Linked DNA regions of Homo sapiens. The protein of the gene in region 1 purifies or fractionates together with the protein of each later gene. This does not show direct contact. Each region holds a gene or a part of one and is shown in the gene's direction. Other genes may lie near its edges.

Region 1 (3,159 bases):
AGGCTGCAGGTTGGAATTGTAATTTCAGTGTCATATTGGTTTCACAGGTTTTGCAGTGCTATGTGCATCTATCTGGTGTGTCCCTCCCCAGGGGTCAGTCTGGGATGTGAGCAGAGATATATTTGTTACCTCAGTTCTTCAATTCTGGGGCATGCTATTGGGATCGGTTCCATGCATACACAGGTTGGGGGTGAGGCCAAGAGTTCATAAACAGTTTTATGGAGTAACTTTACTAAGCTCTTCTTGATTCATTCTCTCCCCAGTACTTTCTGGTTCTCTGGGTTTCCCATTTTTTATCTGGCCTAAAACTGCCTAGTTCCATGATTATGCAACATCCAGGCCAAACACTAGGAGAACAGAGAAAGAATAGAGATCTGGTTGCAGGCTCCTCTTGCTGGCTATTGTTGCTGCCACCTCTGTCCCCACTACCACTGCTGCCATCACAGAATGGCCTGGGACACAAGAGGATGGAGAAAAAAGAGCAAAGCAATCTTGAGGGGGTTTCATCTACTCTCTAGGGTTTTGGGGATTTCCCTTCTCTATTCCTCAAGCTGGGTTTCTTCTAGGGCTTTTGGGGTTTGGGTTTGTTGCATCCAGGCTAAGAAAGAAGTGGTAAACTCACTGCCAGTTCAGTGGTGCTTTGAATTCAGTGTCCTCTCCTATTTACCTGTTGCTGTTTGCTTTTCAGTGTTCTGAAATAGCTGCGCTGTAGATTTGCATCCAGAGGGAGAGAAAGAGTGTCATGTGTTTTCTCTGTCTTACGCAGAACTGGAACCTCTGATTGATATAATTTAAAATTTTTATTTTTGAATTAACTCATCCTTATATACAGAACAACAGCTGATGTTATGAATAAGAGTCAGGTAAATGGCCAAACCACGTAGTTTTCAATTGGCGTTGTTTATGTCTACATTTATGTCAGCTACACATGATACCATTTTGGCATCTTCCTTTGATCACATAACTGTCACTGTAGATTTCTATTTGCACCTTCTAACCAGCCTTGTGGATGAAAGTCATCTTCTGATTTATTTGCAACTTGTGGGTGATTTCCTGGGAGCACAGCCTCTGCACACAATCTCATGGCAGGGCTGGTCGGGGCACTGAGCCTGGATGTAGTCAGCTGACCTGTTTGAGGCAGTTCTGAGAAAAATGAAGTGGGAATCCTCACTGAAGACGCCTGATGGGGAGTGTACCTTCAGTGTAAGTTTATGCATACTTCAGACATAATTGAACTACAGCTGGCATTTTTAAGCAGTAGTCTTTTGAACACATCAAGTTGGGTGCAATTTCAGAACAAATTTACATGCAGCTCTTCCGAGATGCAAATCTTTGCAGAAATCACACCTGATGCAGTTGAACTGGCAGCTGTTCTCTGGCATACTCAGGAAGGTGGGAGAGGATCTCAGTGGAGGTGCGAATGCATTCATATATAATTCAGAGTTCATGTTAATGTTTAGTTACCCCTGTGACCTATCATGAGTGGTTGATTAAAAAATGTTGAGCCTCTTAACTAAGGAGACAATAATCCAGCCTCGGTTGCTGTGATCAAAGTCAGCTGAAGCCATCCTGGTTCCACCTTCGTGGTGGGGAGACAGTCTGGCTCCGTGTGGACTCCTGTAGCAGCCCCTTAATTTCAGCTTTGGTTACCTCATAAATAAAACATGATATATACTTACCTTGTAAGGTAGGCTGTTGAGAAGATTAAATGAGAAAACATATAGGAAACAGCATTCTGAAATGTAAAGTGCCATACAAGCGTTTATTACAAGAAATTTTAAACTAACAAAGATAACAATAGGAGGCAACGGTGAATTAAGAGAAGCAAGTCTAATAGTAGAATCAAAGCCTTCTCTTCTCTGCCTTTCAGGACATGGACTCATTTTATGGAGGGTCTGAATTGTGAGGTCTCTGGGTGGGTCTAGAATTGTGGGTCTAGATAAATCCCCACCTGAGCCTATTCTAGCCCTGAGAGTGTATGATTCTGCAAATAGGTGCTACAGAGTCAGGCATGCCCAAGTGTTTTTCTCATAGGACTGTGGCGATTAGCATGGGCACACTTCCTGGGGTTTAGTTATTAATGCCTCTCTCCCAGGTCCCCAGGCACCTTCTTGGCATCCTTCTATCCACGTGAAAGAGATCATGTTGGGCTGAGAGCCCCAAAGACAGATTTCCAGTTGCTAGCCAGGCCTCTTGAGTCCCAGCACAGAAAAAGTAGTTTTGCTTTAATTGGAAAGTTCAGGTTCCCAGACACAAACTCTCCTGAGAGATCCGCAGGAGGCTCCCTGCCCTGAACTGGCCGTCTTCTGCCCCAGCAGACTGCCTTGTCCCCTCCCCTGAGGACCACCAGTGTCCTGCCTCTTTCCCCTTGGTCAGCAACACTCTGTGGGGGAGGTTACGCATGGGGGTTACAGACAAGCCCAGGGGACACCCCCCAGTGCCTTAGGCAGCCACAGCACCATGCAGGCCTGATACTCAGGGTGCCCATCCAACAGGGCATGAGTCAGGGACGGGTCAGCTGACCACTGTCTTCTTCCTCCTGCCCTTGCAGATCACCTCCAATGAGAAGCACTTGGAGAGCCTCAAGAATGCAGGCAGCCTCCTGCGGGCTCTGGAGCGGCTGGCCCCTGGGAGTGGGTAAGTGGGACCCAGGAGGATCAGCAGTCTGCTCTAGATCAGCACACACTCTCAGCCATTCCTTTCTCCACTCCTCCCACTCATCTCCCTCCACACCAGGGACTACCACCTTCCAGCCCATCACTGTCCACTGAGATCCTTCCCAGTGTGGGAAGGGAAGCTCTGCCACTCCACACACTGGGAATCCCCAGTTATGGTGGGGAAAGTGAGGGGACAGGAATCAACAGGGGGAGAGAAAGTCTTAGTCCTGCCAGGGGAAACAATATTCCCACCTTGAGGCCCCTGAAGAGGTTGAGTGGATGACCAAGTGGGAGATGCAAGGAACCTCATGAGAAAGGCAGCCCCTGGCCTGTGCACACATGCCCCCATCAGCAGCCCAGCCAGAGGCATCCTCATCACCACCTTGTGGAGGACTCAAGGCCCAGGCAGGGCTGGGGCAAATGTGACAGCTTAGCCTGCTCTGCTGCACCAGGTTACCTTCCTCAGCCAGAAGTTCAGAGGGACCACACAGAACTGCGTATT
Region 2 (2,762 bases), on another chromosome or scaffold:
TTGAAGTCTGGTTTTCCATGAGGAACTTGCGGGCTCACCCACCCCCAGAGTGAGAGAAGAGGAAGGCGAAGTCATCACAGACACGGTCTTAGCCACCTGCTGAACTAATCCCTCCGCTATTGAGGGTCAGGGTTGTGAGGCAACCATCATGTGTCACCCCAAAATATAAATGTTTCTGAGCCGCCCATCCACTGGCATTTGGATTTGCTGCCAGAGTCCTGTTCCTCCCAGAACCATCCCGCCCTCCTGTTGACCATGTTACTTGAGTGTAGGCCCGGTGTCAAGACCCTCAGAGTCTTTGAGGAAAGAGCCAAGCAGAGAAGACCGCTGCGTGGAGTGTGACACCACATGGCATTTCTCAAGCCCAGCGGACCCTGTGTCAGCAAATACCAGTAATTTAACATCTGCTCCTGGCCTCCTCTTCACCTGCCTGGGTTCGGAACTGAGGAGGAAGGATGAGAAGAGACTGCAATGCAGCAGGCACCCTCTGCAGAGTGAGGCCGCCCGTCCATCACTGCCAGCCCTGGGCTGCTCAGGAGGGGACGTGAACCACTCAAAGGAATGTCTTAAAGAGGATCTGGAGTTTCCCCCATGCAAATTAGGGAAGAATTAGGCAAGAAAAGACATACATTACAGGGAAATCCTTCTGAACAAAATGGCTGTCTTCACCTACTCTTCTTGCAAGAAAAGACATACATTACAGGGAAATCCTTCTGAACAAAATGGCTATCTTCACCTACTCTTCAGCAAAAACCGTCTCCAGACTTTTTAGTGTCAAAAATGTAACCAACTGTCTCCTGATTTTTTCCAATGTGTTTGGCAAGTGCTGTGGCCCTGTTGTAGGTACTTCTCCTGACTCTTGGGGGAGAAGTGGTTTTAGGGATTGATTTGGGGGAGCGGGTTTTTGTCCCATCCCACCTCCTCTCTTCTTTCTCTGCTTGTCGATATTGTCTGTGTGATTCAGAGAATTGGGGCAGTTACATTGTGTCTGTTGTTGAGATTATTAAAAGATTAAAACGTAGTTGTAGAAATGAAAAATTAAACAGCTGTGTTTTAAAAATGCAAACCAATATCTTGTTAATAAAGGAATTCAAGCTATGGGGCAGCCACACTCCCCTCCTCCCAGGCTGGCATAGGTGGCCCTGGGCTGGCGGCTTAGGAAGCATGGAGCACACTTAGGGTAGTGCCTGCCTGGGCAAGAGACACCTGCCGAGCAAAAGGAACGAGAATCTGGGGCTCAGAGCCTCGCAGTTGTGCCAGGATTTTCCTATACATGTTCAGGACCTCTGGGTAGAGGTTTCACAGTTTGTGACCCCATAACCACCCTCACCCGACGTGGGTTCTAGCTCAGTGTGCCTAATACTGCATGGTAACCTGGGCTTGACCCTGAAGCCCCTGCCTGGCAGGCCACAGGACCTCTCCTGCCCACTTGGTGCTATCTCTTCCAGTGACCACCCAGCACGGGTGAGCACTGGCCAGCCTGGAGCCTGCAATCCAGGTGGAACAGACTGTCCTCCATGTCAGTTCCTTCTGGCTTCAGGCCCTCAATTATTTCCCTTTGAGCTTTTTTAGACCCTAGATCTCCTAGGCCCAGGCTCTCTCTTGACCCCAGAGAAGCCACTGTCAGGAAAGGAAGTGAACCCTACTGAAGCCAGAGAATTCACCCCGGCCAAAGCAGGCCCTCTGGGTCCAGCCCCTCATTCCACACCACGCCAGTATTGCATCCATCTACTGCAGCTACACATCCTGAGGGCAGCACCACCCACTCTGGCCTGCTGGCCCATCGCAGGACTAGCCCAGGCACCTGCCGGGCATTGCAGGATATCCAGTGGGGCCTGTGACTGCTCCCTGATGCGTCAGAAGAGAAGTGTTGCACTTTAGTGGAGGAGCTGAGGAGCACCTGCCCCCTTGTAGCTTGAGTTCCTTTTGGTAACAGTAGCAGCCTCCATGGTGGTGTCTGGGATGCACGTGCACCCGCTGCCTTCAGCTGTATGTGTGTGTTCCTGCTGGAGTTGTGTTACTGACAGGATAATGACATTACAAAGAAATTGTGTTATATTCAACTTTGCCTTGATAATTATTGTAAACACTTTGTTCATTTTTTCTTTTTTATTCACAAACTAAATCCACCAGGAAATTATAAAGTTATTTAAAAACCGTGCTGTGTCCTTCTTTGAGTGTCACCCAGCTGATCATCCAGGCAAGGTGTGTCCCCAAATGCTAGAAAAGATGGACAAGGTCTGCAGTGCCCAAGAGGCCAACTCCAATGGCAGGCAGCCCGAGGGCCAGGGGTCCCAGGATTTACGGTGGGTGTGGGAGTCATCACAGCCCTGACGGGCATGAGCCTCCTTTCCCTTCCCGCCTGATCTCCGGGTTTGCAGCTTTTAAAGTCAATTCCCGGTTCCCTTTTTCCTTCTTTCTACCCTCAGCCCCGGGCCAGGTTATCCGTATCAGGTCTCACTGTTCCAGAGCTTAGAGTAGGTGCCCAGCGCTGAGGGATGGTGCTGCTGTTGTACCAAGGTAGAAGAGCCAGAAGGGCGGCCACCAAGGGAGGGCTTTGCCCAGGACTGGGACTCAAGCTTCAGCAGGGCGCGTTCTGATGCACTGACTCTGGGGCGTGCAGGCTGGGTCAACAGAAAGTGTGTGTGCCAAGAGTAAAAGGAGCCGAGAAACCCTGTGCTTGGACGCGGCTGTCATTTCCAGCTTTGGGATTTGTCTTGGGCTTTATGCTCAATAAGAAATTATTCTGGAGGATTTCTTTT
Region 3 (3,657 bases), on another chromosome or scaffold:
AACCCAGGAGGGTGGAGGTTGCATTGAGCTGGGATCACGCCAGTGCGCTCTAGCCTGGGCGACAGAGTGAGGCCCTGCCTTGAACAAAATGATGCAAAACAAAAAAACCACAGAACCTGATAAATAATTAATTATGAAGCATATAAGAGCCTTCACTTAGGTCCCAAAATAGAGCATAGCTAGCGCCCCCGTCTGTCTCTCCTTTTCCAGTTACACCTCATTCTCAATTTTATAAAGTAGCTATTGTCCTGAGTTTTATGACGCTACTCTGTTGCTTTTCTTCATAAATTTATTGCTTATATATGTAGATTTGATTTGCATCATCTATGGATTTTATATTTGCAAATTCATGTACTTACTGAAATTTATTTGTGACCCCAAAATCAATACTCAACGTCACTTCTGCAGTTGTTCAGACTTACCCATATGCAGAGTGGTGGAAAATTTGAGTGGCCCAACCCATATTATTCCCAAAGAGGGCAAACATGGCAGTGACCTACCTTCTTATTTCAGCTCTCATCCTGTACACAGATGTCCTTTTTGCAGTCTAATGCCATGTTTTTCACACTTTTATGCGTTTTGTTGGTGAGGTCACTTTTTAAAATGGCCCCATACTAGTGCTGTCTAGTGTTCTAAGCACAAGAAGGCTGTGATGTTCCTTAGGGAGGAAATATGTGTGTTAGATAAGCTTTGTTCAGACATGAATTATAGTGCCATTGGCTGTGAATTCAGTCTTAATGAATCAACAGTAAATATTAGATACAGCATCTTAACATACATGCACAAAACAAGGTTATGTATTGATTGGTTGACAAAAATGTCATCAGAGGCTCATAGGAACCTAGCCCTGTATTTCTCCTAGGAGCAATGCTCTGGTATTCCCTAATTCAGTGTTTGCAGTGACTTTAAAGAACATAACTACCACAAAATAGTAAGAATTGACTGAATATCTGAATGATATAGTTTGGTTTTGCCTGCTTTTGAGCCTAATAAAAATAGAATCGTAATATTTTTATGTTTTTTTCTTACTCCATACTAAAGATTTATCTGTGTGGCTGTAGCTGTTTGTTCATTTTTATTAATGTATAATATTCTATGGTATAACTATACCACAATTAACTGTTCTATTGTTGATGGACATCTAGTTTTTTTCCAGCTTTTGGACATTATGAACAATGCAGCTCTGAGTATTCTTATATATGTATCTTAGACATGCATGCCTGAACTTCTCTGTAGCATAGACCCAGAAGTGGTTGGCTCATAGTAGTAGATAATGACAAACTGTCTCCCTAGATTCTTGAGCCAATAATAGTGAAAGTTCCTGTTATTCCACAAGCCTGATGATGCTTGATACTGTCATCGGTATGGTTGGAACTTCAATTTCCTTTTGTCCTTTTATAGTCGGTCAAGTTCATAGTGAACTAGGGAGTCTGTTCATTTAGGCTATGGAAGCCTTCTAGTAATTTGTACTTTCAGTGAATAAGGAATTCCTCTTTGTCTTTCTGCGTGTGTGTGTGTGTGTGTGTACGCGCGTGTTCTCCTTAGGGAGATTGGAGTCTAGTAGGAAAAACTACTTACGAAGCAGCGCCTTTGTAATACTGTAATACGGCAAGCTTTGGTCTATGTCTAGTAACAAGAAGCTCTGAATTACTTTGAACTTCGGATGCTTTTTGTTTTTTTTTCTTTCCACTCCTATATAAAGCTTAAGAGATGTGATTGCTGTTTTTGGCAAAAAAGGGGAATCTTTTCATATTTTAAAATTTTTGCCAGGAAACATTACCTGGAGCCAGAATAAGTGGAGGTCTTTCCAACTTGTCCTTCTCCTTCCGAGGAATGGAAGCCATTCGAGAAGCAATGCATGGGGTTTTCCTTTACCATGCAATCAAGGTATGGTAGAAGAACTCTTAGCCCTGCGGAAACCAGTTTTTAGTTGGGGCAGGGGTTTTCAAAGTGTGGCATGCAGGCTAAGTCCGGCCTGCTGCCAGTTTCTGTAAATAAGATTTTATTGGGATAGAGCCACACCTATTCATTTGTATCTTGTCTGTGGCTGCTTTTATGCTGTAACTACAAAGTTGAGTAGCTGTGACAGAGGCTATGGCCTAAAATATTTCTCTCTGGCCCTTTACAGAGAAAAGTTTGCTGATCGCTGACTTAAGGTATCACTGTAAATTCTCATTTTTATTTGTATTGCCCTTAGTCTGGCATGGACATGGGGATAGTGAATGCTGGAAACCTCCCTGTGTATGATGATATCCATAAGGAACTTCTGCAGCTCTGTGAAGATCTCATCTGGAATAAAGACCCTGAGGCCACTGAGAAGCTCTTACGTTATGCCCAGGTAGAGAGACAAGTGTTCTAATAGATGGATTTTTCCTATCTTTGAATGTATTACTCACCTACAGTTAGTAGACCTTCATGGTGGAATAGAAGCAAATATCGAATCATATATTTGGATCACTGAAGATTTCTACAGAGAGTTGCAGAGATGGTGGTGTAGCTAGGGCAAGGAAGGGTAAACAGACCATGCCTAGGGTGCTTCCGTATTCTGAACTTAGGTTTCTTTAAATTTATTGTAAAATGTAAAATTAATTTTTCTTGTACCAAGTAACATATTAGTTCTAGAAAATTTACAAAATTCTGGTAAGCAAAGGAAGAAAATAAAAATCACTTGTAATCCTACCACCCAAAGTTAAACACTTGAGATTTTGTTATAACCTTTAAGTGATGGGAGTTTTTATTTCTTTTTGCAAAATGAATATGCATGCATAGGTACATATACATACATTTTTTACAAAAATAGAACTATACTCTAGATGCTTTTATGGTAATATTTTTTTCTTAGCAGTGTACTGGGAACATATTTCCATTTTACTTGATATTTTTCTACCTCATTATTTAAAATAGCTGTTCTGGATTTTCTTGTGTGGCTATGTTAGTGTTACATGGTCCCCACTGTTCCATGTTTTGGTTTGTATACCTGTTTATGTTAGGATCTGGTCCATCTGTGGCAAAGTTCTGCAGTTCAAGGCTTAGGTCTGTGCACATTTGATGTGTAAAAAATGAGTATAATTATAGCTAATTCAAACACCAGCTTGTTTCTCATTTATATGTTGGGCGCAGTCCTAGGCACATGAAGTATCTATCGTAGATGGTTCTTCTTAGAATTCAGTTTAAGGAAAGTTGAGATCTTTACCTCAAAAGAACTTGCATTTTAATCTGTTTAAGAGAATGATGGCAAAGGAAGATATTTTTCCCACAAAGCATGTTGAGAAAGTGGTAGGATGCTTTTGTGTCTCTTGCCAACTTTGTTAATGTTTTCCATGTTAGAATCTGAATTTAGCTCTGATAGAACTGCCAACTTTGCCTCTTCCACAGAAGAGTAATAAAATGCTCTGGAAGAAGGATAGGACACTATGAGATTAACCACATCCTTGTTTTATCAGCCTTACTGGTAGTAAGACTTAGATTTCTGAAATTGCTTATGGAAGCCTTAGGCTCAACAAAGCTGAAAGGAGTTCAGACACTGTGCCAACGCTCACACGACCCTCCTCTCAGTTCCTTAAAAACATTTCCAGTTTCTCATGTGGACCCAGGACAGAATGTTTCATTTGGTTGTGGCAGATACAATCAAGTTCTACTTCTCAGCACATTACTTAA

Evidence for each region.
Region 2: the proteins of ULK4 (region 1) and ERC1 purify together in Homo sapiens (affinity purification with mass spectrometry; one large-scale study listed by BioGRID and IntAct). This does not show direct contact.
Region 3: the proteins of ULK4 (region 1) and MTR purify together in Homo sapiens (affinity purification with mass spectrometry; one large-scale study listed by BioGRID and IntAct). This does not show direct contact.

What each region holds. Positions count from the first base shown.
Region 1 is NC_000003.12:41,248,967-41,252,125, reverse strand, and holds part of ULK4 (serine/threonine-protein kinase ULK4), read left to right. Parts: intron 1-2,551; coding exon 2,552-2,637; intron 2,638-3,159. UniProt on the Homo sapiens protein: May be involved in the remodeling of cytoskeletal components, such as alpha-tubulin, and in this way regulates neurite branching and elongation, as well as cell motility.
Region 2 is NC_000012.12:1,493,774-1,496,535, forward strand, and holds the end of ERC1 (ELKS/Rab6-interacting/CAST family member 1), read left to right. Parts: 3' UTR 1-2,158; downstream 2,159-2,762. UniProt on the Homo sapiens protein: Regulatory subunit of the IKK complex. Probably recruits IkappaBalpha/NFKBIA to the complex. May be involved in the organization of the cytomatrix at the nerve terminals active zone (CAZ) which regulates neurotransmitter release.
Region 3 is NC_000001.11:236,850,751-236,854,407, forward strand, and holds part of MTR (methionine synthase), read left to right. Parts: intron 1-1,770; coding exon 1,771-1,887; intron 1,888-2,197; coding exon 2,198-2,338; intron 2,339-3,657. UniProt on the Homo sapiens protein: Catalyzes the transfer of a methyl group from methylcob(III)alamin (MeCbl) to homocysteine, yielding enzyme-bound cob(I)alamin and methionine in the cytosol. MeCbl is an active form of cobalamin (vitamin B12) used as a cofactor for methionine biosynthesis.